Homo sapiens: one gene and its partners. The protein of the gene in region 4 purifies or fractionates together with the protein of the main gene of each other region. This does not show direct contact. Each region holds a gene or a part of one and is shown on either strand. Other genes may lie near its edges. The genes, in order: KMT2C, NCOA6, KDM6A and PAXIP1.

Evidence for each region.
Region 1: the proteins of PAXIP1 (region 4) and KMT2C purify together in Homo sapiens (affinity purification with mass spectrometry; 4 studies listed by BioGRID and IntAct, with this or other methods). This does not show direct contact.
Region 2: the proteins of PAXIP1 (region 4) and NCOA6 purify together in Homo sapiens (co-immunoprecipitation; 6 studies listed by BioGRID and IntAct, with this or other methods). This does not show direct contact.
Region 3: the proteins of PAXIP1 (region 4) and KDM6A purify together in Homo sapiens (affinity purification with mass spectrometry; 6 studies listed by BioGRID and IntAct, with this or other methods). This does not show direct contact.

Annotation. Positions count from the first base shown.
Region 1 is NC_000007.14:152,432,980-152,440,671, reverse strand, and holds the start of KMT2C (histone-lysine N-methyltransferase 2C), read left to right. Parts: upstream 1-4,668; 5' UTR 4,669-4,885; coding exon 4,886-5,046; intron 5,047-7,692. UniProt on the Homo sapiens protein: Histone methyltransferase that catalyzes methyl group transfer from S-adenosyl-L-methionine to the epsilon-amino group of 'Lys-4' of histone H3 (H3K4).
Region 2 is NC_000020.11:34,745,639-34,752,663, reverse strand, and holds part of NCOA6 (nuclear receptor coactivator 6), read left to right. Parts: intron 1-2,144; coding exon 2,145-3,261; intron 3,262-3,267; exon of another isoform or gene 3,268-3,965; intron 3,966-5,735; coding exon 5,736-5,857; intron 5,858-7,025. UniProt on the Homo sapiens protein: Nuclear receptor coactivator that directly binds nuclear receptors and stimulates the transcriptional activities in a hormone-dependent fashion. Coactivates expression in an agonist- and AF2-dependent manner.
Region 3 is NC_000023.11:45,058,180-45,065,204, forward strand, and holds part of KDM6A (lysine-specific demethylase 6A), read left to right. Parts: intron 1-826; coding exon 827-925; intron 926-1,067; coding exon 1,068-1,287; intron 1,288-1,842; coding exon 1,843-1,977; intron 1,978-2,429; coding exon 2,430-2,585; intron 2,586-3,144; coding exon 3,145-3,240; intron 3,241-4,467; coding exon 4,468-4,569; intron 4,570-5,242; coding exon 5,243-5,638; intron 5,639-7,025. UniProt on the Homo sapiens protein: Histone demethylase that specifically demethylates 'Lys-27' of histone H3, thereby playing a central role in histone code. Demethylates trimethylated and dimethylated but not monomethylated H3 'Lys-27'.
Region 4 is NC_000007.14:154,993,113-155,000,137, forward strand, and holds part of PAXIP1 (PAX-interacting protein 1), read right to left. Parts: exon of another isoform or gene 6,968-7,025; intron 5,673-6,967; coding exon 5,538-5,672; intron 660-5,537; exon of another isoform or gene 658-659; coding exon 614-657; intron 1-613.

The DNA of each region.
Region 1 (7,692 bases), 2.6 Mb from region 4:
TTCTATTTGTATGTTTTTCCATGTTTCTTTTCTTTCTCTTTTTTTTTGGGGGGGGGTGGTGTCTGCCTCTATTGCCCAGGCTGGAGTGCACTGGAACAATCTCAGCTCACTGCACCCTCCGCCTCCTAGGTTCAAGGGATTCTGCTGCCTGAGCCTCCTGAGTAGCTGGGACTACAGGTGTGCACCACCACGCCTAGCTAGTTTTTATATTTTTAACAGAGACAGGGTTTCACCATATTGGCCAGGCTGGTCTCGAACTCCTGACCTCGTGATCCTCCCACCGCGGCCTCCCAAAGTGCTGAGATTACAGGCGTGAGCCACCATGCCCGGCCTCCATGTTTATTTTCTAGTTGCTTACTTGTCCTTTTGTGTTTATCCTTGTTAACTACTACTGCCAGGCTTAAAGTATAGACCCCTAGAGGGCAAGATTAGTATCTATATAAAATGTACTGCAAAACATCTACTTAAGCCTCACATTCTTAAACACAAATTACTTTTGAAGATGACTGTTCTGCTTGTTTCCTTCCTGGTTTCTTCCTTTAACTTTTCCACCAAACAGGCACATGATATACTTTACTGAAATAACTTATATAGCAATATGAATTTTTTTTTTTTTGAGGCAGAGTTTCGCTCTTGTTGCCCAGGCTAGAGTGCAATGGCGCGATCTCGGCTCACTGCAACCTCCGCCTCCTGGGTTCAAACAATTCTCCTGTCTCAGCCTCCAGAATAGCGGGGATTACAGGCGCACGTCACCATGCCAGGCTAATTTTTGTATTTTTAGTAGAGATGGGGATTCACCATGTTGGCCAGGCTGGTCTCGAACTCCTGACCTCAAGTGATCTGCCTGCCTTGGCCTCCCAAAGTGCTGGGACTACAGGCATGAGCCACCGTGCCCGGCAAATTTGAGGTGGAGGTTGCTGTGAGCCGAGATCGCATCACTGCACTCTAGCCTAGGTGACAGAGCAAGACTGTCTCCCACTTCGGCCTCCCAAGTAGCTGGGACTACAAGCATGTGCCACCAGGCCTGGTTAATTTTTTTTTCTTTTTTTTTTTTTTGAGACGGAGTCTCACTCCGTCACCCAGGCTGGAGTGCAGTGGCGCGATCTCAGCTCACTGCAAGCTCCGTCTCCCGGGTACACGCCATTCTCCTGCCTCAGCCTCCCGAGTAGCTGGGACTACAGGTGCCTGCCAGCACGCCCGGCTAATTTTTTGCTTTTTTAGTAGAGACAGGGTTTCACCTTGTTAGCCAGAATGGTCTCGATCTCCTGACCTCATGATCCGCCTGCCTTGGCCTCCCAAAGTGCTGGGATTACAGGTGTGAGCCACCGCGCCCAGCCAGGCCTGGTTAATTTTCTTTGGTATTTTTTTGTAGAGACGGAGGTCTCACTATGTTGCCCAGGCTGGTCTCGAACTCCTGAGCTCAAGTGATCCACCCGCCTTGGCCTTCCAAAGTGCTAGGATTACAGGCATGAGCCACAGTGCCCAGCCTACAGTGCAACTTTAATAATAACAATATGAACACAAAAATTCTAAGATCTAAAATTTAAGCTTTCAGTGGTCCTTCTATAACAGTGAAAGTTTGGTTCCTAAAAAGCCCTGAGGAATTTATGGGAAAACAAGAGAGACAACATTTAGTAGTGAACCTGTGCATTCTAAATAAAGACAATCACATGTTATAGGCCTTCAATTAGTAAGAATGAATATTGGACTATGAATTTTTATTCACTGTCACTTGTTTGCTAGATGCTTTGAGAATCTTCCTTGCCTATATTTTTCTGAGATGTTGGTTTTTCTTTGTCAAAGATAACAATGCTCATTCCCTCCCCATTAAAAACTACATATATATATATATATATATGATTAGATGATTACTACATGTGCTTTGAAATATTCAAATATTTTAGACAGTAAAAGTCCCTTGTAATTCACCCCTTTGCAGATGATTGGTTAACAGGTTAGTACACATCTACCTAAATTTAAAATCCCATATTTAACATGTATACTTATTAGAAAGTACACATTCTAATATTTTTCTGTTGTATTTGGTACTGTTTCCAGATGCTCCTGCCTTTTTGCTTTCATAATTTTGAAGGACCTCAGCTCCCTGCCTCCTAGATTTTTGCTACTGTGGTCTCAGAGCTGTGTAATTTGGATGACTGAGACGGAAAAACCTCTGGAAAACCTTTATTTATGTTGAATAAGTATTCCTTGAATCCTTCCTCAGCATCCTGGGTTATATTTGATTTGCTCTGTTCATGATAACTTCATGCCAAGGAGACTGCTATCAGCTCTCTTAAAACAGATCCCAACTCCCTGCTCATAGTGGCCAAAGGAATGGAGATTTCAGGCTGAGTTTACTTACCTGCATCATCATCTATCCAGAAGCATCCCTGCACAAACCTCTGTTTCTACCCTTCCATTCACTCGGCTCACTTTTCTGCTCTTAGTACCCTTTGTTTCTTGTGAACTCTCCAGCAGGAGTGACTTGCAATTTGTATCCACTGACACTTAAGTTCTCAGAAGTGCTGGAGAAGCGTATGGAAGTAAATTATCCTGATGTATAATTTTGTACATGTGAAACTCACCGTGGAAGTGCCTATTCTAATTTCAGTACGGAACACAGCTAAATATTTGGATCAATAATCCAGTTTTGAAAGCACACTTTATTTAAAGTACAATGTGCTGAAGAAAATGAAAAAAGAAAGGGTGCTTTCAAATTTGTACTGAGTAAACTTTCACTAGATCACATCATATGTTTATCACTAGTCACATATATGTTGTATTTCTATGTGTAATCGTCAGGCACTTTTAATTTCTAGTTTGCATTTACCATGCCAGCCTCCTCCTCAATCCCAAATTTCCTTTGGTTATAAATTTAGTAAATTTGAAAGAGCCAGCAGGGATTAAACCCTGAAGGTATTCAAATGACTATCTGACGTTATTCCTCATTTCAGCCATTTCAAAAAATTATGCTTTCATTTAGAATAGGCTCTGGGAATCAAAGTGTGTGTATTTTGCCCAAGTAGAAGACACAGTTTAAAGTTAACATCCTAGCTACTAGAAGGGAAAGCAAACATCGCTGGAAAAGGAGCCTATTTTTTTTTACCTTACACTAAAACTACACTGCGAAGATCAAAAGAAATCAACATGAGAGTGTGCCTCTTAACGCTAGGCCCAAAGTAGATGCTTATTAAATGATAGTTTACCCCAATCCTTCACAAATGGTTGATAGGTCTTACTATTTCCCCCCATTCAAATCTAGAATTTTTTCACTCTCATAAACTAATCGATAGTGAATGGAAAGCACAGAATAGATCATCGTCCAAGTGTTAGGTATTAGCCTGAGAAATCCAGAATCCCATATTTGTAACTGTCCTTCTTGAGAAAGTGCATTTTTCAGGCGGATTCTAGCCCCATTTTTCTTTTTACCATTTTTACATATTATGAGAGGTGGCTTAGAAGTACTTCGATTTTTGCCTCTTCATCACAACACACTGAACGTTAAAATCAAGTGGTTGGGTTTTTATTGGCTTATTTTGTCTCTAACCGTTTTATTTCTCGAGCTGTCATCGTTCTTTTCGTCTTACATCCTTATGAACCTTTTCTGGATTAAAAAAAATGACGTTATAATAAGGAAACTAACTGGCGTTGGATTCGAACGAAGTTGACTCCATTCCTTTTCCTCCCCGTAGTGTGGGCGCTACGAGGAAAGACCTCGGCGAGAACCAGCGAAGCCCGGGCTGCCCTCGCCGTGCGGGCGCACATTTGCTCCTCGCGCCGGGCTGCGCCGGGCGACCGCGGCCGCCTCGGCGTGTGTCCGCGGCTCCCTCCCGCCCTCGCCCGCAGTTCCCCGATCCCGATCCCGGATCTCTGGGTCCACAGCTTGGCTACCTCCCGAGCCGGAGCCGGAGCCGGAGCCGGAGTCGCGGCTGGGCCCGGCCGCCGCGTCACAGGGGGAGGGAACCCGGGGGGGAGGGGGAGGGGCGGTGAGGTCAGCGGCGGCGGCGCGTCCGCGGGCGGCGGGAGCGGCGCATGCGCGGAGCGAGGCCCGTGAGTGGCAGCGGCGGCGCGCGGGGGGCGGGCGAGGGGCCGAGTGTGGGGGAGCGGGCGGGGGCCGTCGAGGCGGCGGTGTGTGGGCGCGACGGCTGCGAGTTGGAGAGGTCTGTGGTGCGGGTCGCCCCGGGGGATCCCCGGCGCGGGCCTCGCGCGACGGCCACGGTCGCGCGGCGTGTGTGTGGGGTCCAAGCACACCCGCAAAACTTCCTCCTCCCCTGCTCCGGGAGAGCGAGCGAGCGTGTGTGAGAGAGCGAGTGTGAGGAGCGAGCCGCGGCCCGGCGCCCAGCGCCGCCACTGGAGCAGCTGTCAAAACTTCGCCGCCGCCGCCGCCCGGGCCTGACGGGCCTGACGCGCGGGGGAGGGGCGGCCGGCCGGGGGCGCGACCCCCTCGCCGCCCCCGCCGGGCCCCGCGGCCGGCCCTCCCCGCGCCGGGCCCCTTTCTCCTCCTGCCGCGGGCGGCTCGGGGGAGGGGCCGCGGGCGGAGACCCCGGGGGCCGGCGCCCCTCACGCCGCCCGCCCGCCCGGCTGCCCCGCCCGCCCGCACCCGCCGGCCCCGCCCGCCCCGCACCGCCCGCCCCGCCCGCCGCCCCCCGCCCGGCCCCTGCGCGCGGAGGTGCGCGCGCCCGCGCCGATGTGTGTGAGTGCGTGTCCTGCTCGCTCCATGTTGCCGCCTCTCCCGGTACCTGCTGCTGCTCCCGGGGCTGCGGGAAATGCGAGAGGCTGAGCCGGGGAGGAGGAACCCGAGCAGCAGCGGCGGCGGCGGCGGCCGCGGCGGCGGGAGCCCCCCAGGAGGAGGACCGGGATCCATGTGTCTTTCCTGGTGACTAGGATGTCGTCGGAGGAGGACAAGAGCGTGGAGCAGCCGCAGCCGCCGCCACCACCCCCCGAGGAGCCTGGAGCCCCGGCCCCGAGCCCCGCAGCCGCAGACAAAAGACCTCGGGGCCGGCCTCGCAAAGATGGCGCTTCCCCTTTCCAGAGAGCCAGAAAGAAGTAAGTTGAGTGCGAGGGAGCCAGGCCGGGAGCCAGCGGCGGCGCCGGGCCGGAGCTGTCACCGGGCGCCCGCCCCGCGGCCTCCGCGCCCCGGCGCCCCCCGGCGGGGTGGGGGCGGGGCGGGCCCGCGGGCGGTGGCGGCTCCCGGCCCCGGCCCCGCGCCCCTCGGTAGCCGCCCGCGCCCGGCCTCCCCCGCTCCGCGCCGCCCGCCCGGGCTCCCGCCGGCGCCCGGCTCCGCACACTTTACTTTTCAGTCGGGCCTTTTCACTGGGTCTTCTCCGCGACTCTTCTTTTGGAGAAATTTCTCGTAGCCGCGTCTTGGCCTAGCTGGATCATTGAGAAAACAAGCCCGGAGCGCGCCCAGGTAGTCCCCGGACGGACTCCGGGCGAACCGCCGAGCCGTCGGCGCTCGGGAAACTCTCGGAGCTGTCAAAACGCCCGGGCCAGGTGGTCTCGGGGCGCGGGCTGGGGGCGAGAAGAAAGCGGCCGGGCGAGTGCAGCTTTTGTTTGTCAGCGACTTGCTCCTGGAACTTTTCCTGGTCCCAAACCTGTGTTTTCTTCTTTTGATGATATATTAGGAAGCCATTTGACTTCTTCCTCCCCCCTCCCCCAACACCCAGCACCGCACTCCCGGGCTCCGAAAGCACAAGTCCTGTGGGATCCCCCAGCTTCGGGGAACGGCCTGCCTAAGTTTTGGAGACGTAGCCAGCGTCCCCTCGTAAGGCAGAATACCAAGAGCACTTATTCGGAGAGAGTGCAGATGTAAATGTCGCTTCCCTCGTAAGTCTTAGCTGTAAGGGGCTTGGGAATAGGGTCGCCTGCCTTTGAGCGTACAGTAGGGCTGGACCCCAGCTTATTAGAGGACCAGAAATGTCTTCTTACAGAACGGTTATTTGACGGCTTTGCTTGTAAATTAAGACACCGTTTTAGTGCCAGCGAACTGCTCGGCTTCTGTGGCTCTCGCGTGTGCCGTGGAAGAACTGTGAATGTCTCTCGAAGTTGTAGAATGGCGTGTGTGCTTACTCATTTCGTGAGATGATATTCTCATTGAACTGTCGGGAGTGGAAGGGTGCGCTGGGACGTGAAGGAAGCCAGCACGTTTATGGATAGGCTGTTTCTTTGGTTCGGGTGCATTCACTTAGTAATAGTATTGTTGTTTGGTGATTTGTAGTAAAAATAGTAGCGTGAACTGAGGCATAGCAGAGCTGGGTTGTGGGAACCCATTGAGCTCTTGACTTGAATGTGCTCTTTTCTTGCCCCGCTGTCCTTTTACTATGAAAATGATTCAGGGCCTTCAACTTGCCTCCATATTTTATTGCCAGCTGTTACCTAGCTATGATAATCGTGAGGGAAGCAAGTACAGGATGTGTGTACATTATTACATTAGCTTGTTCGTGATACAAAGTTAGGACTTATTTATTATGCCACTTGCGTTGTAATACAGTGGCAAGTATAAAATGCCCTTATTCTGTATTAACTGAAATTTGTAGAAGGAAGTGGAGGTTTAAGTAATTTTTAGACATGTAAGCCACTTTTTTTTGCATCCTTTAAAGCAACTCAGGACAAGCCATATTGGGGTTTTACCTTGATTGCCTCCCATTTCACTATTTGCAAAGCATTTCTTCATCTCTTACTGAACATTAATTTGCAAGTATTGTTTTAAATTTGCATTTGAATTCTTACTCCAGAAAGATTAGATCTATGTTGTCACACCCCACACCCCATACTCCTGTAAGGGCGTGCTTGTGCACGCGCACACGCGCACACTCACACGCACGCGCACACTCGCACACACCCTACTTTTGAAATGAGCTCATTTGTATTAGTGCAGCTCCTGAGTGCACTGGACGATTAGGGTATTGCCACTTTATTATTTTAATTCTGAATCTCATGAAGAAATAGGCAGCCTTTGGAGAAGATAAAAAATTTCTGCTGAATAACAGTATAATCTAACTATGAAAAATCAAAACTTTTGGAAATATTTAGAACAAATGTAAGTCTGTAGAGAGCTTTTTCTTTTAGATTTGAAAACTAGTACTGCTTTCTTTATAGGAAATTAAAGTCTACTGGTAAATTTGACGGGTCTAAACTTTTTAGAGCGTTTTTTTTGAAATTGTGTCTTTTGAAGGGAATGGAATCTCCAGTTGTTTTTAGCAACATGTAAATGGAAACTAACATATGAATTGGAAAGCAAAGAGGTTTTTGAATTGTGTATCTCTATACTGTATAAGAATCCATGCAGAAAAGACCCTGTAGTTGGACAGTAAAGACCCTGAAAGTGAAACTTATGTGTAACCAGTGTAAATTAGGTTTGTAACCAGTGAAATTATGTGAAATTGCAAATAATTCACCTGAGAAATGAAAATTAATCTTCTTTGCTAAATCTCATAGAGATATTTTAAGTTGCTAATGTTACTTAGATGTTCATTAACTTAGTGAGTTACATTAAGTAGAGAAGATGCCTTTTTTTTTTTTTTCTGGACGAAGTCTTGCTCTGTAGCCCAGGCTGTAGTGCAGTGGTATGATCTCGGCTCACCGCAACCTCTGCCTCGTGTATTCAAGCGATTCTCCTTCCTCAGCCTCCAGAGTAGCTGGGATTACAGGTGTGCGCCATCGCACCTAGCTAATTTTTTGTATTTTTAGTAG
Region 2 (7,025 bases), on a different chromosome or scaffold from region 4:
AGCCACTGTGCCCGGCCCACGTGTACATGTTTTGGTTTCCCCATTTATCCTATCTAAAGTAGCTCTACTCTTATCTCTTACTTTCTCTTCTCTCACCCTACTTTCTCTTGTTAGCTTTTACTGCTTCCTGAAAAAATACTTGTCTGTTTGTTAGTTGTGTCTCTTGCCAGTTAGACTGTAGGCTCCAAGGATGCAGGGATTTGGTCTGTCTTGTTTATTGATGTTACCTCAGCACCAAAGTGCCTTCTATGTATCAGGTACTTAATGAATAATTGTCAGTTGAATGAATATACACAGTATATTTATTGTATACAAGCATATACAATGGTCATGGAGTTCCACTTTGAGTTTATAAGGCTGGTTTAGAAAATCTTCCTTAGAGTTCAGGAGAAGTCTGGATAGTGTGAACAAGGTAGTTTGCCCCCTGCCTTCATAGTTGGAGCATGGACTGGCTTCATAACTTCATTGTAGGGGATTTTCTAGTCCCCATTTAAAAGTGAAAAATAAGGCCAAGTGCGGTGGCTCAGCCTGTAATCCCAGCACTTTGGGAGGCCAAGGCGGGTGGATCACCTGAGGTCAGCAGTTCGAGACCAGCCTGACCAACATGCTGAAACCCTGTCTCTACTGAAAATACAAAAATTAGCCGGGTGTGTTGTTGTGCGCTTCTAGTTTCAGCTACTGGGGAGGCTGAGGCATGAAAATCACTTGAACCCAGGAGGTGGAGGTTGCAATGAGCCGAGGTTGCACCAGAGCCAGATTCTGTCTCAAAAACAAAACAACAAAAAAAGTGAAAAATAAAAGGGACAAAATTAACTACAAAGTTATTCAGTTAAACGGGGAGATAATGCAAGTAGCTATAGGAAAATCCCAAAGACCCAGTAAATAAATAAGCACTACAGCAAGGCGGGTAGCAACTTTTGTCTAAGTTAGAAATAGCTGAGAAGACTAAAACATGTGCCACATGATTCACCAGGGACTGCGCAGGAGAGGGTCACTGAGGTTTTATTATTCCTCTATTTGCAGCTTCCAGATGGGTCATCTAGTCAGTTGGCTCCCACCAGAGGCTCAGCTTCCAGATCAAGATTAACTGCTTTTTACCACATCAGGGCAGAGGACACCTGTCCTTGGTGTTATTTTCTTTGAAGTGCAGCATCCACATATCACACACATAGCTTTTGAGAGTCATTATTATTACAGTTTTCCAAGAAGCATTTTTAAATGTCTTCTCATGATTGTTGAGGTTTTCCTAAGAGGACACTTCACATTCTTTTTTTTTTTTTTTTTTTTGAGACGGAGTCTTGCTCTGTCGCCCAGGCTGGACTGCGGACTGCAGTGGCGCAATCTCGGCTCACTGCAAGCTCCGCTTCCCGGGTTCACGCCATTCTCCTGCCTCAGCCTCCCGAGTAGCTGGGACTACAGGCGCCTGCCACCGCGCCCGGCTAATTTTTTGTATTTTTAGTAGAGACGGGGTTTCACCTTGTTAGCCAGGATGGTCTCGATCTCCTGACCTCGTGATCCACCCGCCTCGGCCTCCCAAAGTGCTGGGATTACAGGCGTGAGCCACCGCGCCCGGCCGACACTTCACATTCTTATAGCAGAGTTATTTCAGTAGCCCATAGTGCTTTTTGAATTTAATTTAATTTAATTTTTTGAGACGGGGTTTCACTCTGTCACCAGGCTGGAGTGCAATGGCATGATCTTGGCTCACTTCAACCTCCACCTCCCAGGCTCAAGCAATCCGCCTGCCTCAGCCTCCCAAAGTGCTGGGATTACAGGCATGAACCACCCGAGCCTGGCCACTACAAGTCATTTTAAAACAGTGAGATGCTGCCTTTCTCATTATTTAATCTGAAAGAAAGTAAACTTTCTTGATCTTTGAAACGTTAAATCTTTAAGATACCATATGGGAATGTAGAAACTGTTTCTCCTTCTCTATTATATGGTCATTGGGAATGTAAGCAGTTATCCCACAGCCACATCTTTGTAGTTTAGAAAACTCACAGGAAGTATGTCAACAGCATATTTATGTTGGTCAGTGGATATAAGGGTGATGGATGTCTTTCTGAGTAATGTAACTTGAGTATCTTAATACCAATAAGATAAAAATATTTATTTCTGAAACTGTGACTTTTTTTTTTTTTAAGGTGGTCAAGGAGCTGGTCCTCCTCAAAACCAGATGCAGGTGTCCCACGGGCCGCCAAATATGATGCAGCCCAGCCTCATGGGAATTCATGGCAACATGAACAATCAGCAGGCTGGTACTTCTGGGGTTCCTCAAGTGAACCTCAGCAACATGCAAGGCCAGCCCCAGCAGGGCCCACCATCTCAGCTGATGGGCATGCACCAGCAAATCGTGCCCTCCCAGGGCCAGATGGTCCAGCAACAAGGAACCTTGAACCCTCAGAACCCTATGATCCTTTCAAGGGCCCAGCTTATGCCACAGGGCCAGATGATGGTGAACCCCCCGAGCCAAAATCTTGGGCCCTCGCCCCAAAGGATGACCCCACCCAAGCAGATGCTTTCCCAGCAGGGCCCACAAATGATGGCGCCACATAACCAGATGATGGGGCCTCAGGGGCAGGTTTTGCTCCAACAGAACCCAATGATAGAGCAGATTATGACCAATCAAATGCAGGGGAATAAGCAGCAGTTTAACACTCAGAACCAGTCCAATGTCATGCCGGGACCAGCCCAGATAATGAGGGGACCAACTCCAAACATGCAAGGAAATATGGTGCAGTTTACGGGACAGATGTCAGGACAGATGCTGCCCCAGCAAGGGCCTGTGAACAACAGTCCATCTCAGGTTATGGGCATTCAGGGACAGGTCCTGCGGCCACCAGGGCCCAGCCCACACATGGCCCAGCAGCATGGTGATCCTGCTACTACAGCAAATAACGATGTCAGTTTATCTCAGATGATGCCTGATGTTAGCATTCAACAAACCAACATGGTCCCCCCTCATGTGCAGGCCATGCAGGGAAACAGTGCCTCGGGAAACCACTTCTCAGGCCATGGGATGTCTTTCAATGCACCTTTCAGTGGAGCTCCCAATGGAAATCAGATGTCCTGTGGTCAAAATCCAGGCTTCCCAGTCAATAAGGATGTCACGCTAACGAGCCCATTGTTGGTCAACTTATTGCAGAGTGACATATCTGCAGGCCATTTTGGGGTAAACAATAAGCAAAATAATACCAACGCAAATAAACCGAAGAAGAAGAAACCCCCTCGGAAGAAGAAAAATAGTCAGCAAGATCTAAAGTAGGTTGTGATGGTTTTGCCTCAAATTTTATTCATTTGTTTTCTGTGTGGATAACTTTTTTGATGGAAAATTTTACAGAATATAAAACTAGAATAGTATAATGAAATCCCCCTGCTTCAATAATTATCAACTCATAGTCTGTCTTGCCTTCATCTGTACTCTCTTCCATTACCCTTTTGAGTATTTCAAAGCAAATTCGCTGGGTAAATATTTCAGTGTGTGTCTCTAAAAGATAAGGACACTTTTTAATATGCCCGCACAATATTGTTAGCACACCTAGAAAACTAATACTTCCTTAGTACTCTCATATCCAGTGTTCAAACTTCCCTGATTATCTCAAATTTTTTTCTTACAATTTGTTCAAATAAGGATCCAAACAAGATTCATATGTTGCAATTGGCTGGTATATCTCTTAATTTTACAGTGTCGGGGGGTTTTGGCAATCAGAGCCTGAAAAGTAACCAGTGCTACCATATGGCAACTCCACAAAGCACTGACTTTAGGCTTATGATGGCTATTGGGGAACCAGAGAGGCCAAATGTGTTTTGGAAATTAAAACTACTGCTGTCTCTCAAATAGAAATGGTTTTTTTGCACAGGTGCCTTTCCTTTAAAGGCTCTTTATCATCCCTAGAAGCTTAAAACCCCACGCTAAGATGATTGGACCTTTTAAATCAGTTACCCTTTCAGTAAACGTTCTCCAGGTGAGTTATTTTGCAAGATCATAGCAGGAAAGGCAATTAACAATTTATATTTCATTTCCTGAAGCTAAGTATTAATTTGTGTTTCTGGGTTTGATAAAATGTTTCCAGAAGGAATATTCACTGAGCTATATTTTGTGCCTTTAATCATAAAAAAATAATAAATGAGGAAATAATGGCTAATGAATGTAAAACAGGTTAATTGAAATAAATTGTTAGAATTATAGAAAAAGAATCAAGAAACTTTATTTCAACCAGCTTAAATATTCAAAATTAAACCAACTACCTTTATCCCAGCCTTCCCACAACATTCTTTGTACTGTATTATATCATGCTCACTTGCCTCTTCTTGAATCTTATGCTTTAAAAGCTAATCATGGTGTATTATTAATGATAACCTATATTTTCCTGAATTCAAAGTTAATTATCTAATTTTTCTGATAGCTCTTTCTCAGTTAAATTCTTTACTAGCATCAACCTATGGGAATAATTATTTAATAAATATTTTATTCTCTCGGTAGTCTGGGAGTAAAATTGCAAGGTTATTCAGTTGCCTCTAGTGTGTATTTTTTGCCATCTTCACCAGCCCTTAGGGAAATTGGTTACTTAGGTCTACAAATTGTGAAAGGGACCTTACACAGCATCAGGACTCCCAGGAAAGGGAGACAGTGGATTTACAGGAAAAGTACCTGCTTCCAGCTCTACCACTACTTCACTGTGGAATCTTGGGCCTGTTTCATACACCTTTTTGGGCCTTAGTTTTCTCATTCATAACATGATGGGGCTGGACCAGATATCTGAGATTTCTTATCTCTACAATTTTCTGAAAGTAAAGGTTACCACTGAATTCTTGCCTGTAATTTAAAGTGAGAGAGAAGTCTTACAAGGAGCAAATTGTTATAGGTCTGGATGTGCTGACGATCTGCTTCAGGTTCTAAATTTCCATTTGCTGGGAGGCTTTTAAAGTGGATTTTTGTGGCTTATGAAACTGTACAGAGTATAATGAGACAAAACACTACCTAAAAGTGGGTGAACAAAATCAGGGCAAAGGGAAACTAAAGATAGAAAAGAAAAGTACAATTAGTACTGAGATTACAAACAAAATGAGGCCCGTGACCAGTCTTGTTCTTTGAGAATGTGGGTGTTAGTAGCTACAATTTCTTCATTTTTTTCTTCCTTACTAAAAATTTTAAGCTACACCCAGGTAAAAGCAAAGGCATCTCAAAGCAAATAGAGATGTCTGCAAATTCTCATTCTGCAGCAAAATCTTTGTGGTGGTGGTCTCAATCTTTCTTTGTTCTCTGAATACCATCAGCCAACCTATACAACCTTTTGCAAGGTGTTATGAATTGAGCCCCCACTGTTATATCCACAAAAAAGAAACAATCAGACCCCCTAGTTGAATTTGATCGCTACATTGAAGATAGTGTGGTTTCACAGGAACAGTACCTTGTAACATTGATAGTCCTATGATCAGGTCTTAAAACAGCTAAGGAATGGGTGATTACATGAAAATTATTGCACCAGGAATTTGTGGAAAGCATTCTGAGTAAATACAGTGCTGTTAGATTAAATGGATTTTAACATTTAATGAAATTGCCAGATTATTTTTATGCCAATATTTAATATTTTATCTAGACTAGAGAGAGATGAATAATGGTAATGCAAACATTTTAGTTCTTCAGAAATAGGGGAAGGGTTAAGCTAGTTTTGTGTATTTTCTATACAACTTATTCTAAAATATGTCACTTTTTTTTTTTTTTTTTTTTTTAGCACCCCAGATACTCGCCCAGCTGGTCTGGAAGAGGCTGATCAGCCACCGTTGCCTGGAGAACAAGGAATTAACTTGGATAACTCAGGCCCTAAACTGCCAGAATTTTCAAACCGGCCACCAGGTGATAAAATGTTAGCTAGATTATATACTTATTACATGTGCATGTGGCATTACAAGGCTTCCATGTCTTCAAGGAAACAATAGTATTTTATTTTATCTGCTAACTAGTCTACTTCAGTGATTTAATGTGTCTGGTATTTGGAAGCTTTGCCTTGATATTAAGTAAAAATTTCAAATATAACTTTTGAAGGCACATACACACACACATTCTATTCAAATTTGTCTTTGTTATTTTAAGTCCTCATAAAATCGGACTGAAATGTGGTTGGGCATGATGGCTCATCCACCTGTAATCACAGCACTTTGGGAGGCCAAGATGAGCAGATCGCTTGAGCGCAAGTGTTCAAGACCAGCCTGGGCAACATGGTGAAACCTTGTCTCTACTAAAAATTTTTTAAAAATTAGCCAGGTGTGGTGACACGCACCTATAGTCCCAGCTACTCAGGAGGCTGAGGTGGGAGCATCACCTGAGCCCAGGAAGTCGAAGTTGCAGTGAGCCATGATCATGCCACTGCACTCCAGCCTGGGACCCTGTCTCAAAAAAAAAAAAAAAAACCATGAAATGTGAAGTGCCTCTTTATTCTTGTCAATGTCAAGATTCTAGTTGGCATCAGAACAGGATAAGATTAAATGGAGAGATGATTTCACTCTAATCCTGCTTGCCTGCCTTTCCTGCAGCGTTTCTTCCTGGGGCTTCTCAAAGCAGGGAACTACCAGGGTTTAAAACAAGATGATCTTTTTTATAGAAGTTTCATTAATGAGTCTTTAAAATATAAAGAAGATATAAAGAATAAAAGAGACACCCATGTATCTACCACATAGGTTAATAATTTATAATAAATAGGACCAATATTGGAAGCCCCCTTTGTTGTATCCTCTCTGATTATAAAATAATACTATCCTTTAAATGTTGAAAAATTATGTCAAAGATGGAAAAGCTCCTAAAATTAATTCATTCAAACCTAGATATTATAGAACCAAGGCCAGCTGCCACAATATCTCTATACCTGGTTATCTTGGCCTGAGCAATGACTTGTAACTTTATTCCCCTATGACACGGTTGAAGATACACAACCCTTCACACTTAGGCCACTCTCCCCTGTGTGTACAGAGGGTATGTTTTGTTTCTTCCTCACTAGTTATTTCAACTTCTTTTTGGCATGAAAATG
Region 3 (7,025 bases), on a different chromosome or scaffold from region 4:
GATATGACATCATGACATTTTTAATGTATCTTCAGTCCTCAACTAAATTGTAAGCTTCATGAAAATAGGGACTGGGTTTTTGTTTTTTTTCTTTTTCCTTTAGTGCCAAGAATAAGAAGATAATTTCAGTATTTATAATTTCAACTGTTATCTGTGTATCCATCATGTCCATCGTGTATATTCACATTAAGAAAATTACAGTCCTTGAATCGTTAATCTTACCTTGCTAACTTTACTAGTCATAAAATATTATACTTTATATTATTTTTACTTTTTACTTTATACTATTTTTGATACTTAGTTTGAGATTAACTATGTCTTACATGTGCATTTTTTTTATGAATTAAAGAATTATTGCCCTCAGTGTTGTTACTTGGGAAAGGAAAATTGAAATCTGATACAGCAAATCTTACCAACGTATATAGTGTTTTTGTTTTTAACTCTGTATTTTGACCATATAGGAAACTAGAGGTCAAGCTGTATAAGAAGAGTGGAAGAGTGCCGTGTGTGTGTGTGTGCACATGTGCATGCAGCTCTCAGTATTATAATATTGAAGTGATATGTCCCCTAATCATTTTAATAGAGTTCATTAATGCAGCATGCTTTTTAGCACCTATAAGACAGACTATAATATGGTTTGTTGGAGGGCAAATTATAATATTCATTATAGTTAACAAGTATATACATACATACACATAAATATATTAACTTATTAGGGTTTTAAAAAAATTTGCTGTGATATATAGTCCATCCTTTCAGCCGATTAATTTGTTTCAGTATTAATGGAATTCTCTTGATTTTTTTTTTTTTTCCCTTCCCTTCTCAGGTGCTATTCAAGTATTGGGAAAGTTCAGGATGCCTTTATATCTTACAGGCAGTCTATTGATAAATCAGAAGCAAGTGCAGATACATGGTGTTCAATAGGGTAAGCCTTTGTATAAAAATAGTAGTAATTTAATTGATATACAAAGATGGTTGCATCACATATAGTACTTCATAGTTTAAATCATTATAAAACCAAGCAGTTCTTCTGAGTTGACTTATTTTTTCTTAATTTCTCTTTCCAGTGTGCTATATCAGCAGCAAAATCAGCCCATGGATGCTTTACAGGCCTATATTTGTGCTGTACAATTGGACCATGGCCATGCTGCAGCCTGGATGGACCTAGGCACTCTCTATGAATCCTGCAACCAGCCTCAGGATGCCATTAAATGCTACTTAAATGCAACTAGAAGCAAAAGTTGTAGTAATACCTCTGCACTTGCAGCACGAATTAAGTATTTACAGGTAAAATTTTTAAATGGCAGTTTTTTAAAGCCACATATTTCCCCAGAACACTCAGGCAGAAGGAGGGTGGCTGGAAAGTTTGTCTAGTTGTGTTTTGATGTCTATAATCTGTTTCCATATTTTGTAAACATACCATAGCTTGTAATATTATTTTACTTTTCATTTTAAGTAAGATATGCAGTATTTTTAAAGATGCTCTTTTGCACATTTACTCTGTTGATGCATATTAATTTACATAATTTTTTTCTATGTACTGTCTACATTTTTAAGTTGTCATAGCATTTTATAGAAAACACAAACAGTCTTTCACTCTTGCTTGGAGTTTCTTGAGAAGACAGCTATGAGAACTCTGAAAACAGAGCTCAGCTTTGTTTTGATTCTCACAAAGGTTTATATTCCGGTTACCCTGTTTATACTTAGTGTCTTCTAAAGCCCCAAATTTAGAATCTATTTTCTTTTAAAAACAATTAGCTATAGCATTTAGGAAGATTTAGTGGACTTGCTCTTACTCAAGTAGGCTTGTGTTAAATTTGCTTTTTACATAATTTTTCCTAGGCTCAGTTGTGTAACCTTCCACAAGGTAGTCTACAGAATAAAACTAAATTACTTCCTAGTATTGAGGAGGCGTGGAGCCTACCAATTCCCGCAGAGCTTACCTCCAGGCAGGGTGCCATGAACACAGCACAGCAGGTGAGAAGTTGGGTTATGTTCTGCAGGTGCCCAGCTTTAAGGGTTCTTTTCAATTCTCTAGTGGTCAAGCTTAATTTACTAAGCACAGGAGGCTTTTAGTAATGAAAAGCCTTTTGATTTAATTGCAAAGGGAATCTAGATCAAAATAAAATTCCCTCTAATATGGGAAGAGATTTTGGGGTACCAACTTAGAACCTTTGTGCATTTTCATGATTTTGAAGGAGATTTCTTAAAATAATGCTACAGTGGTTTGTTTAATTTTTAAGGCAAGTTTTTCAAAGGAAGGTACACATTATTCCATTGATGAATCATTTAATTTTGATTTTCAATCATTGCAATCAGCGATGTCCACATAGCTTTGAAAAGTATGCAGCTTGTAAAGTTTTATAATTTGAAGGAATGAATTAAGAATATATAGAACCCTATTTTTGTCTTCCTTCTGTGATTCTTAGGCATGTAAACCTCATCATCCAAATACTGAACCTGTATTAGGCCTCAGTCAAACACCAATTTCACAGCAATCCTTGCCACTACACATGATTCCTTCTAGCCAAGTAGATGACCTGTCCAGTCCTGCCAAGAGGAAAAGAACATCTAGTCCAACAAAGGTATATGTTTTAGAGAAATAGAAAATCCCAGTCAAAAAAGAAGTTTCAGCTGCCCTGAAATTGTGCAGTTTGAACATTTCCTGTCCTTTATTTTAAATTTGTGGACATCAAAGAGTGAAAGGTTTGAGTTTTTCCATCCCAAACCCTTAGTATCATATTAAATATAGAAAGTAGGGATAAATTTGCATTCATCAAATCATTTTATTCATCTCCCTGCCGTTAAGATCCCAGCACACTTTTCATCATCACTTTTTACTGACATTGAAATAAATTTAATGTTGGATCTAGTGGACAGTGTGGTGTTTAGGCTAGCCGTTTGGGCCATAGTTTGAGGGTGGGCCTTTTTGGGTGGCTTATTAAATAGTCAGTAATTTTTAAATGTATGATTTCTAAGTTTAATATGCATGTAAAATTATTTTTTAAAGAATTTAATGTTATAACATCTTTTTAACATGTAAATATTCCAATTCATAGTCATTTGGCCTCCTCTAACCATTATTATTAACTGTGGATTTAACCAAATATTCTTTAATTTTTTTTTTAAATCGATTTTCCTCAGAATACTTCTGACAATTGGAGTGGTGGACATGCTGTGTCACATCCTCCAGTACAGCAACAAGCTCATTCATGGTGTTTGACACCACAGAAATTACAGGTATGTAAGATGTTTTTGACAAATTGTTTATTAAAAAGGAGTAGAGGTAGCAAACAAGTATTAATTTTTTTTTTTTTTTTTTTTTTTTTTGAGATAGAGTCTTGCTCTGTCACCCAGGCTGGAGTATAGTGGCACGCTCTTGGCTCACTGCAACCTCCGCGTCCTGTGTTAAAGTTATTCTTGTGCCTCAGCCTCCAGAGTAGCTGGGATTACAGGCACGCACCATCACACCCCGCTAATTTTTATATTTTTGGTAGAGACTGGGTTTCGCCATGTTGGCCAGACTGGTCTTGCACTCCTGACCTCAAGTGATCCACCTACCTCAGCCTCCCAAAGTGCTGAGATTACAGGTGTGAGCCACTGCACCCAGCCCTAAGTATTAATTCTTATAAGTTAAATGGCAGTACATTCAATTAAAATGCACAAAAGTAAAATGAGCCTGCATTTACCAGAATAATGAAGAGCATTCATTCTTGTTTTTAATTTCTTTTTTTTTTTTTAAACAGGACATGGTTTACACTACATAAAGTATAAATATAGGGTATATAGGGTAAAGTTTTCTTCTAACTCTGGCCCCTACCCACTCAAAATGTGGCTGGTATTACTAATTTCCTATCTATCATTCCAGAGGTATGTTATGTATGTACAAGCAAATATACATCCCCCCCTTTCTCACATGTATTATTATTTTTCTTCTTTTTTACACAAATGATAGGATTCTTATTTGCTGTTAACAACATATTTTACAGACTTCTGCATGTCAATATGTGAAGAGCTTCCTTGTTCTTTTATGGTTACATCATATTTCTTTATATAGATGTAACACCTTTATTTAAGCAGATCAGTAATTTTGGACATTCAGGTTGTCTTCAGACTTTGCTTATTCCAGACAGTGCTGCTTTTAGCATACTTGTCAATATATTTTTAAGCTTCAAGAGTTTTCTCTGTGAATACCTAAGAATACTGTATGGATGAGTAAAATTTCATGCCCATCTATTACAAAGAACTCATAGTAAATCTTGTTCAGATGAATGCTTAGTTCATTCTTATATTTCTCAAGCTTATTAAAGGACTTCATCTTGGAGTGTGTGACTGTTGGTCAGAAGACAGTGTGTTTGACCAGATAGTGGTTCTGAGTTTAGTCATTTCAGGGAAAGGTTGCTTAGAATAATGATCTTATTTCCTAAATATATCTTTGACTATATTCTCTTTTTGTTCTTCTTCTAGCATTTGGAACAGCTCCGCGCAAATAGAAATAATTTAAATCCAGCACAGAAACTGATGCTGGAACAGCTGGAAAGTCAGTTTGTCTTAATGCAACAACACCAAGTGTGTATAGCATATTTTTCCCTGAAATTTGTTAGCATTTTGAGTATTTTTATTGACTCTAATGTCATTTTAGAGCATGTTTATGTTCATTTTTACTTTCTACTGGTATTTGACAGAATTTAGTAATCTCTGTATTTTAAAATACTGGTAATTGACGGAGATTTTTAGACAAAAGCAACTATAATTTTGAAGAAGATACTTTGTATTTTATTTATTTACATGATATTTCACATGTATTCTAAGGGTTTGTTTACATTATTTAGTACTGAGGCAAGGTTTTTAGGGCTTATTTAGTTTACAGGATCTGGCATATATGTAACAGAATGAAATTTTGAGATGTCCCCTCTTTTGTGATTGAGAGAAGGACCTATAAGTTCGGGGTCGTTTTCTATAATTTTCAGCTGCTTCCTTTTGTCATTACTAATGGGATTTTTTTTTTTTGAAACCGACTTTTGCTTTTTCAAGGAAGTTTATTTTAAAATGAACAAATACAATTTCTTGTTTTTAAAGTATGTATTTCTCAACTTAGAGAAATTAAGCATTTGGGTAAAATCACACATTCCCTAATTATACATCTTCATATTCATCTGGGGATTCATAGAGAATCCCCTATAGATTCTCTTCCCTATAGATTACACAACCAGCATTTACTTTTCCTTTGTTTTTTTGACAGATGAGACCAACAGGAGTTGCACAGGTACGATCTACTGGAATTCCTAATGGGCCAACAGCTGACTCATCACTGCCTACAAACTCAGTCTCTGGCCAGCAGCCACAGCTTGCTCTGACCAGAGTGCCTAGCGTCTCTCAGCCTGGAGTCCGTCCTGCCTGCCCTGGGCAGCCTTTGGCCAATGGACCCTTTTCTGCAGGCCATGTTCCCTGTAGCACATCAAGAACGCTGGGAAGTACAGACACTATTTTGATAGGCAATAATCATATAACAGGAAGTGGAAGTAATGGAAACGTGCCTTACCTGCAGCGAAACGCACTCACTCTACCTCATAACCGCACAAACCTGACCAGCAGCGCAGAGGAGCCGTGGAAAAACCAACTATCTAACTCCACTCAGGTAATAGGAGGACTAGCTTCCTTGTTGGCTTTTCACATAAATGTTTTTACTGGGTTTTATACACTTTGAGAGAAGAAGAGAGAAGTGTTTGGGGAACTGGTTTTATAAGAATTTTGTGGCACTACAATGTTACTACATTGTGATTCATTATGTACATACATGAGTATATCTTTGTTCCCTTTGTACAGTCTCTACCGACATAGATAACTTAGCAAATTTACAAAGGAAGAAAATAGATCATATAAATCACCCAAAATGCACCATTAATTTACAGTGGCATCATAAGCACATTTATGTAATATTACTTAGTTCATTTCTGCATAAACTGCCTACTTAAGATCAGGCACTAAACTAGGTGTTAGGTATTTGCTTTAGTGGGAGAAAAAGACCAGTGAATAAGTATTTACCATAATGACTGTGAAGTGTGACTTTGGTGGGAAAGTTCTATCAGAGTACCTACGAGAGCACATAACCAAGATGTCAGAGTCTTCCAGAAGCTAGAGTTTAGGGGAGGAGAGGGCTGGTGAAGTGTGCCTAGAAGATAGGTTATGAAGAGGGGAGGGTGAAATAAGAGGCTGAGGGAGAGGCCAAATTTATCTTGAAGGCAAAGTTGATCCACTAAAGTTTTTGAAACAGAGTAATGAATTGCATGCACATTATTTTTGTCAAGGAAATGGGTCATAATGTATTCAACGTTAGCACATTCGTTAGACATTTAATTTCTAAGTTTTTACTTCTGAATGTTTATGTGCATAGTATTTCCCATATTTTGGATTGTTTCCATGATATGGGTACTCGCTGAGGTGAAACTGAAGGGCCAAAGAGTAAGTTTTAAGAAAATGCTCTCAATATGTATAGCCAAATTGCTTGTACTTTTATTAATTTACTATGAGAAATATTTGACTTAAAAAGAGAAATATTTGGCTGATTGTCGGTTAGTCTTATATTATTGATAAAACTGAAATAAGTTCTTTTTCTAAGATTTTTAAGTTTATTCTTGAATTAATATCCTTGGTGGGACCCTGATCTAAAGTGATTAGTACTTTATTCATTCTTAGAGAAATACTGAGTACCTACTAGGTTCATTTCCTACTCAAGGCTCTGGGAATACATCAATAAAGAAAATATACTGAGATGTCTCTACTTGGTGTAGGTAAATAGATAGTAAACAAATAAGCAATACATATATAACATTAGATGATGGTTGTGATTAGTGCTATGGAAAAAAGCACTAATAGAAAGGGAACAGCAGAATACTAGAGATTGGTGGTAGGAGAGTTGCAGTTATAAATCAGAAGGGCAGGGAAGGCTTCTCTGAAAGATAGCATTTGGATGAGAGTTACAGGAGTGAGCCTTGAAGCTATTTGTGATAAGATTGTTCCAGGTC
Region 4 (7,025 bases):
AGGCCTAGAAGAGTAAACAGGAGGCCTGTAGAACGCCTCATTTCTGACTCCTGACACAGTGCCAGGGCAAGGGCACATCTATGAATGCTCCATGAACGAACAATGCAAGCAAGGAAGCTCCCTGAGGGCAGAAATGGTCTTCTTCACCCCTCTATTTTCAGTACTCAACCCACAGCACAGGTGCACTGAATTAATAATCGTTCTACCCAATGCAATTAAAAGGATTAACAATGCATGTTATAAATTTTATTCTCATGTTCTCTTCCCCAACTTACTCTTCAAACAATTCATGATTTGATTCACATAGACTTAGAATTTTAGAAATATCCCTCATCTAGCTAGCACCACAAAAGCTGAAGAGAACCGGAGCTCCTGCCTCCAGTTCCCGGCCTAGAGTTACTTGTCACAGCTGAGCCCCCTTTTAACATGAGTAATAACAAGGATCAGGTACATAAAATTTGAAACAGGATGGAAAATAGTAGGAATATAAGATGTAGACAAAACAATCTGTCCTAACGAATGAATCCACTTTTCACTCCATTAACTATCATTTCTTTCAGTCTTAAACCCAGAGTTACCCTTTCCCTCCTCCCCCACTCAAAAAAAAGGATACGGCAGAAGAGTTCCACACTGAACGGACAGAATCACCCAAGAAGGCTGAAAAAGAAAAGATTAAATCAAAAAGTATTCTCAATTTACAAGTGGCATATTATTTTACTAGTGTTGTTCTTAGAAATTAAAAGTCTCTGTTACAACCTATTTTAAAACATCCAGATTACAAGTATGAATATTCAAATAGAAATATTATAGTCAAAGATTAGTTACTAATACCCAAGATGAAAAATCCAATTACAGAATGAAGCACTACCATATTTTTTTAAAATTATGTATAAACATTTAAGTTCCAGGTTTACACACTTATTACTGCTGACCCCCACATTTAGGACAGGGGAACTGCCACCCATCCTGCCCCACCACCGCCGACACCTCATCCAGGGCATAGTCAGCCTCTCATACGCTCCCTTCTTGAATCCCAAATTCAGTCAAGTCTAAATTCATGAGGTGTTTGTTTGTTTTAGTGAAGTCAAGCAGATACAATGTTTGTAAGCCTGAAAATATTTTTATAAATTCTAAAAACTGAGATTAATTATAAAACAGATTAATTACTACCTTTCTGGGTAATTTATATTTTTGAAAAATTATCTTGTTTCTATGTTTAATTTTTATAATTATACAAATCATTCTCCTGATAGCTCTACTTCAGAAAATTACTATCAAAATGTAGTAATGCCCCCATTACTACATTCTGGAAGGCAGCTGACTTCCAGAAACTTCAGCCAACTGAAACAGACATATATACTCACTACCCACCCATCAATTCATTCATCAAATATTTATTGAGAATCTATTTTATGCAGAGATGGTGCAAGGCGCTGGGGATGTAACAATGAAAACGAGAAACGCAGTCTTTGCTCTCCTGCAAGTCATATTCCAAGCTAATGATCTTCAAGCTATTTTTGTCATGTACACCTTAAATAAATTTCAGACAATGAAATGCCCCCCTTATCATTTTTTAGATGACATCTAAAATTTTTCAGCATAACTCTAAATAAGTATATTTTCTGTGAGAAGAGGAATATTAAACATTTTATAAAATAAAATAAAGATTGGCAGCTGTGCCTGGGATAATTACTTCATTATGATTTGACATTTACCAAAGGTTTTAACTAAGTTACTGGATTAGTTATCTGAAATCTGAAAGAAGGCACTTAATTTTTCGATCTATGTGCCTTATCCAACATATCTTCACATTTTTTGATAGTCCTAGAAAAATTCCAGTTAAATTTAAAAAAATGGGCCAGCATCAGGAATCGGTATTGGCCTTGACACTTCTGAATTCAGAACACCTTCATGTAGACCAAGCTCTCCTTTCAACAGCAACACCCAGAAACCCCTCTCTCCTCATGATGCCATGACTGAGCACTAAGGGAACAGTCCCTAAAACCAGTCTTTCTAATTGTCCTTTTGTCTGCTGTCCACGAGAATTTTCAGAGCCTGGGGCAATGCACTACAAGATTAGGATGGGTGAAGGTCTGATTCTTCCTGTGTAAAGTGGGAGGGGCCACTGTGACCACAGGTGTGTTCTCAGGCAGCTTTAGGAAGGGCCAGTCTGGAAATGTTATCTATCACCTTACAACCATCCACACAGCATACACGCTGAATATCTCCCCCCAGGGAGCTTGGGTAGGGTATCCCAGTTTAAAGACTGCTGGCTATCATAAAGTCCCATCCAAGCACAGTAGAATCACTGAGGCCCTACTTCAGATAAGTTTAGATAAAATAATGCAAAATTAGGATGTAGGCCACAGTACAAAGCAGAAATGGAGAACTACAAAAGCAAAGTGATAAGGAACTATTTATCCTAAAGGCAAAGAACAATATATAAAAATAAGCTGGCTGATCGCGATGGCTCATGCCTGTAATCTCAGCACTTTGGGAGGCCAAGGCGGGCGGATCACTTGAGGTGACAGGTTCGAGACCAGCCTGGCCAACATGGTGAAACCCCGTCTCTACTAAAAACACAAAAGTTAGCCGGGCGTGGTGGCACACGCCTGTAGTCCCAGCTACTAGGGAGGCTGAGAGAGGAGAATCGCTTGAACCCTGAGGCAGAGGGTGCAGTGAGTCGAGATCACACCATTGCACTCCAGCCTGGGAGATTCTGTCTGAAAAAAAATTAAATAAAATAAGCCCACTACAAGTCAGCAAAATTAACATTTCCAATGATGCCCAAAGGCCACTGAGAAAAATATCTCAATTTAAAAAATAATTTTAAAAGTTTTGGTGCCCAAAGAAGCAAGTTTTAAACATTTATAAGATTCAAATATGTAAATGATAGATAAACTGTCACTGTGTATAAAGATGCCTTATTTTTAAAATGCATTGTCAAACTTCCTATCAAGGTAAAGGCCAAGGGATATGCCTCTAGGGAACCAGGTCTCAGCCTTCAGTCATATGAATTCAGACTCAACTATTAGCAGCAGGATCCAAAATAAGACAGGCCCATAAGGTTCAAACTAAGAATATCAGGATCTACTTGAAATATCTTAGAGTGAAGGCAAACTGTTGAGTCAGCTCCGAAGTACTCTACCACCTTGTAATGTAACACAATAGTCCCTGGACAATACAGGTGCTGTCAAAAATTACAAGCAGGCTGGAATGCTACTGGGTACAGATGAAATATGTCTGTCACTCATTTTAAAATACTATAGCCAGAGGGGGAAAAAGTTGGGTTTGAATACAGTAAACTACCTTGGCAAAATGGTGATAATCCTAGATGCTAACTGCTAATTGTATAAGTAATGGGTATTTCTACTTAGCCTTACATACTGACTTTCCCAGGAATATGAATACTGTGTAAAATGAAGGAAGACTGCTTTGTTTAGCTCAGGAATTGATCACCATTCTGAAATGTCACCTCACAGCGGCGACCCCACTTGTGGGGTATGATATCAATCTGTAATTGCAGCAGCTACCGGCAGTGACTCTACATATAGCAGCAGCCATGCCCAAGTGTTTACACATTGAAATATATATTTATTATTTACTTGCCTTTTATTTCGCCTTCACATTTCAGTTTGGGCAATTTATATATACATATTTTAAAGGTTGGCTTACGTATCGATTCATTTCTGGATAATAAGGGGAGTGCTACAAAGTACTTATTACAAAAAGGTGGTTTGGGGTCAGGCAGGTTTAAGAACTACTTCTGGTAGTTGGCCTGGCAACAATCACCTAGGCCCCAAGGATGTGTTAGAAAGATCACCCTTTCACATAACATCTGCATAAGATATGCAAAGCCGCTTTACTGAGACAATAGCTCCAGGCTATTGTCTGAGAGAAAGAAAGTTTGTAGGAAGGAGAAGGAAGAGACAGAGATACTGTCCCTAAAGCAGTACAAGGAAGCAAGCCAGAGACAAAAACATGTTCCAAAGAAGAGGGTGCCCCAGCTCAGGACCTCATCCAAGGCAGTTTCCGACCCTGGGTACCAGGGAGGTCACCACTTCCCAGCAGCCAGGTGGCTTCTCTGGCCCCGCAATTTGACTTAATGGCAATCTTTCTATTTTTTTCCCTTTTTCTTTTTGTTTAAGAGATGGTGTCTCACTGTGTTACCCAGACTGGAGTACAGTAGCTATTCACAGGTGTGATCACAGTGCATGGCAGCCTTGAACTCCTGGCCTCAAACAATCCTTCCACCTCAGCCTCCTAAGTAGCTGGGACTACAGGTGAGTCCCACTGCACCAGGCTGGCAATCTTTCTTAATTCCTAACACTGTTATTGTTAAACCACAGTAACTTTCATACTGATTTCTTTTTAAGGCAAAGCATTTAATAACATGAAGAGGGAAAAAATGGTAGTGGTATAGAACTATTTTAAAACAAATACTTCATAGGGAAGATCTGAAATAAAATCGAAGCATTGGAATTACAAAATTTAACAAATTTTTAAAACACACATTTTAACAGAAGTCAACTAACTTATCAGCCATAACATAATACAGTAGGTGGATAAACAAAATCTGAACAATTCTTCCACTAGCTGAATCCCTCATTCTCTGCAATAAATTACCCATAGGTCAAGTTGGATACACCCCAGACGACCAGTGGGTAGACAATGTGACTAAAGGCCATTGTGACTCTTGTCAGAAAGGAGTTCCACAACATAGTTAATGGGGGACGCCCTTCAGCTAACTGAAATTCAGAACACCTTGCCACAGTCGGGATGGAAAGTAACCCTGTCCTAGAGTTACCTCCCGACAGGCCTTAGCCTGCTTTTGGAATGAAATACACTCTTACAATAATTCAAACACCCATCTGATTCAAGGCATCAGATCTGTTTCCCATGACAGGTTTCCCTGGCTCAGAAAACTTCCAGGCAGTGGTAACGTGGGACGAGTTCTGCAGCAGGCATAAAGGATGGCCTAGGATTACTTACGACATACAGAAGCCATGCTCTACCTTGGTTTAGCTGAAAGGACCTGAAGCTAAGGGAAGTTACTCAGACGTTAAAGATGTCCACAGTTATCTGGCAACTTTCCACACAAAACAGGACTTTAGGGCCAGCACGGTGGCTCATGCCTGTAACCCCAGCACTTTGGGAGGCTGAGGCAGGCGGATCACCTGAGGTCAGGAATTCAAGACAAGCCTGGCCCAACATGTTGAAACCCTGTCTCTACTAGAATACAAAAATTAGCCAGGCGTGGTGGCAGGCACTTGTAATCCCAGCTACTCAGGAGGCTGAGGCATGAGAATCACTTGAACCCGGGAGGCGGAGGTTGCAGTGAGCTGAGATCGTGCCATTGCACTCCAGCCTGGGCAACAGAGCGAGATTCCAGCTCAAAAAAATAAATAAATAAAAAATAAAAATAAAATAAAACAGGACTTTAGCAAAAACCCTGAAAAGAGCTATAGTGAAACTTCAATGTACTGCTTGCAAGATACTGAGGAAAAGATATAAAACAAATTATGTTTACTACTGACCTTTACAACAGGTAAGTCAAAGACTTCCCGAGCTTCTCCCACCTCTGGATTGTCCCCATCCTCTGAGATTATGTGTGAGGCTAGTGCATTGTAGGAAACTTCCTTCGCTTTTCCAGCCTTGAGAAGCTGAATAACCTAAAAAACAAGAAAATCCACACAAATTAAAATGGGCAATACTGTACTGTACTCTTGAATTACAGAAATAATTATTGGGCATAATAGTACTTTTTAATAAAAACACACCATATTCCCCACATAAAAACTAACAGCCTTTTACTCTGAATAATATGCCAATGAAACTTTCGGGGACAATCAAAAGCAGCAAATCTTGATTCACTGACCAAGTCAATGACCAAGTAATGGAGGCTATTGTGAGTCCAGTAGTGGACATGGTCTGTCCTCAAGACAGATGGGCTGGACAAACCAGGAGACAGCACAACCACTGCTGCGGTGGGGCCACGCACATGGTGCTCCTGAGCTTCCAACTTAAAGACTGGGACATGGGGAGTTTCATAATTAGGGAAAGATTCTGGAAGACAAGATATGTGAGCAGAACCCTCATAAACGTCTGGGTGTTAGGCAAAAATCCATACATCGAGGAAGAGGGAGCAGTGTTGAAGGCACTGAACAGGTGAATACAGAGCAGACCGTAAATGGGCTTTCTTACACACTATGCAAAAAAGTCTGTGCTTCATTCTGGGGTATATGCAGGGCCACTGAAGGATTTCACACAGGAAAAGTAGCACAGATTTCATACAAAGATGACAGTCCATGTGAAAAGAAAGGATTGGGTGGGCTGGCTGTGTTTGGTTGGCTAGATGACTAAAGACAAGAGACCTGTTAAGAAACAAGTGCAATAACCCAGGTGAAAGAGGCATCCACTAAAGTGATGTCCTGATGGGCAGAAAGGAGGAAGATGTGAGAGAATCGGCAAGCCTTGGTGTCTGGAAGGGGTATAAGCAAAAGAGCAAAGTCCAGACTGAAATGGTGGTGAGTACCACTCACTGAGGAACACATCAGAAGGCTGGCAGGTGGGGACACAAGGACGTGTTTTAGTTTGGGCATGCCATTCTTTGGGGGTCGTGTTAATATCTGGCAAGAGGCATCCAGTTGCAGCTAGGAAAAGATGTGGATCTCCCTGACAGAAAGTCATCAGCATTGTTACATAGATGGGAGCCACAGCCATGAGCGTGAAGGTGGTCGCAGTGCAGAATGGGAGGGGAGCTAGAGAGCAGACACAGCAACTGATACTTCAGGGACAGGTAGGGAAGTGCAGTATCACAGGAGAGGAGCGTCAACAGAAGCCAAGGAAGTGAGGGTTAAGGAACAGTCGACAGTCAAGTGCTTCAGAAGAGGTGGGCAGTGTCTAAGCTGACAGTGCACACCAACTGTCAAAGTGACATGGTGCCCACAAAGCTCAAGTGACCCACCAGGGCAACGCTCTTCCAGGTCCCCTCTCTGCAGCAGAGAGCTTTCTTCTTTCACTTA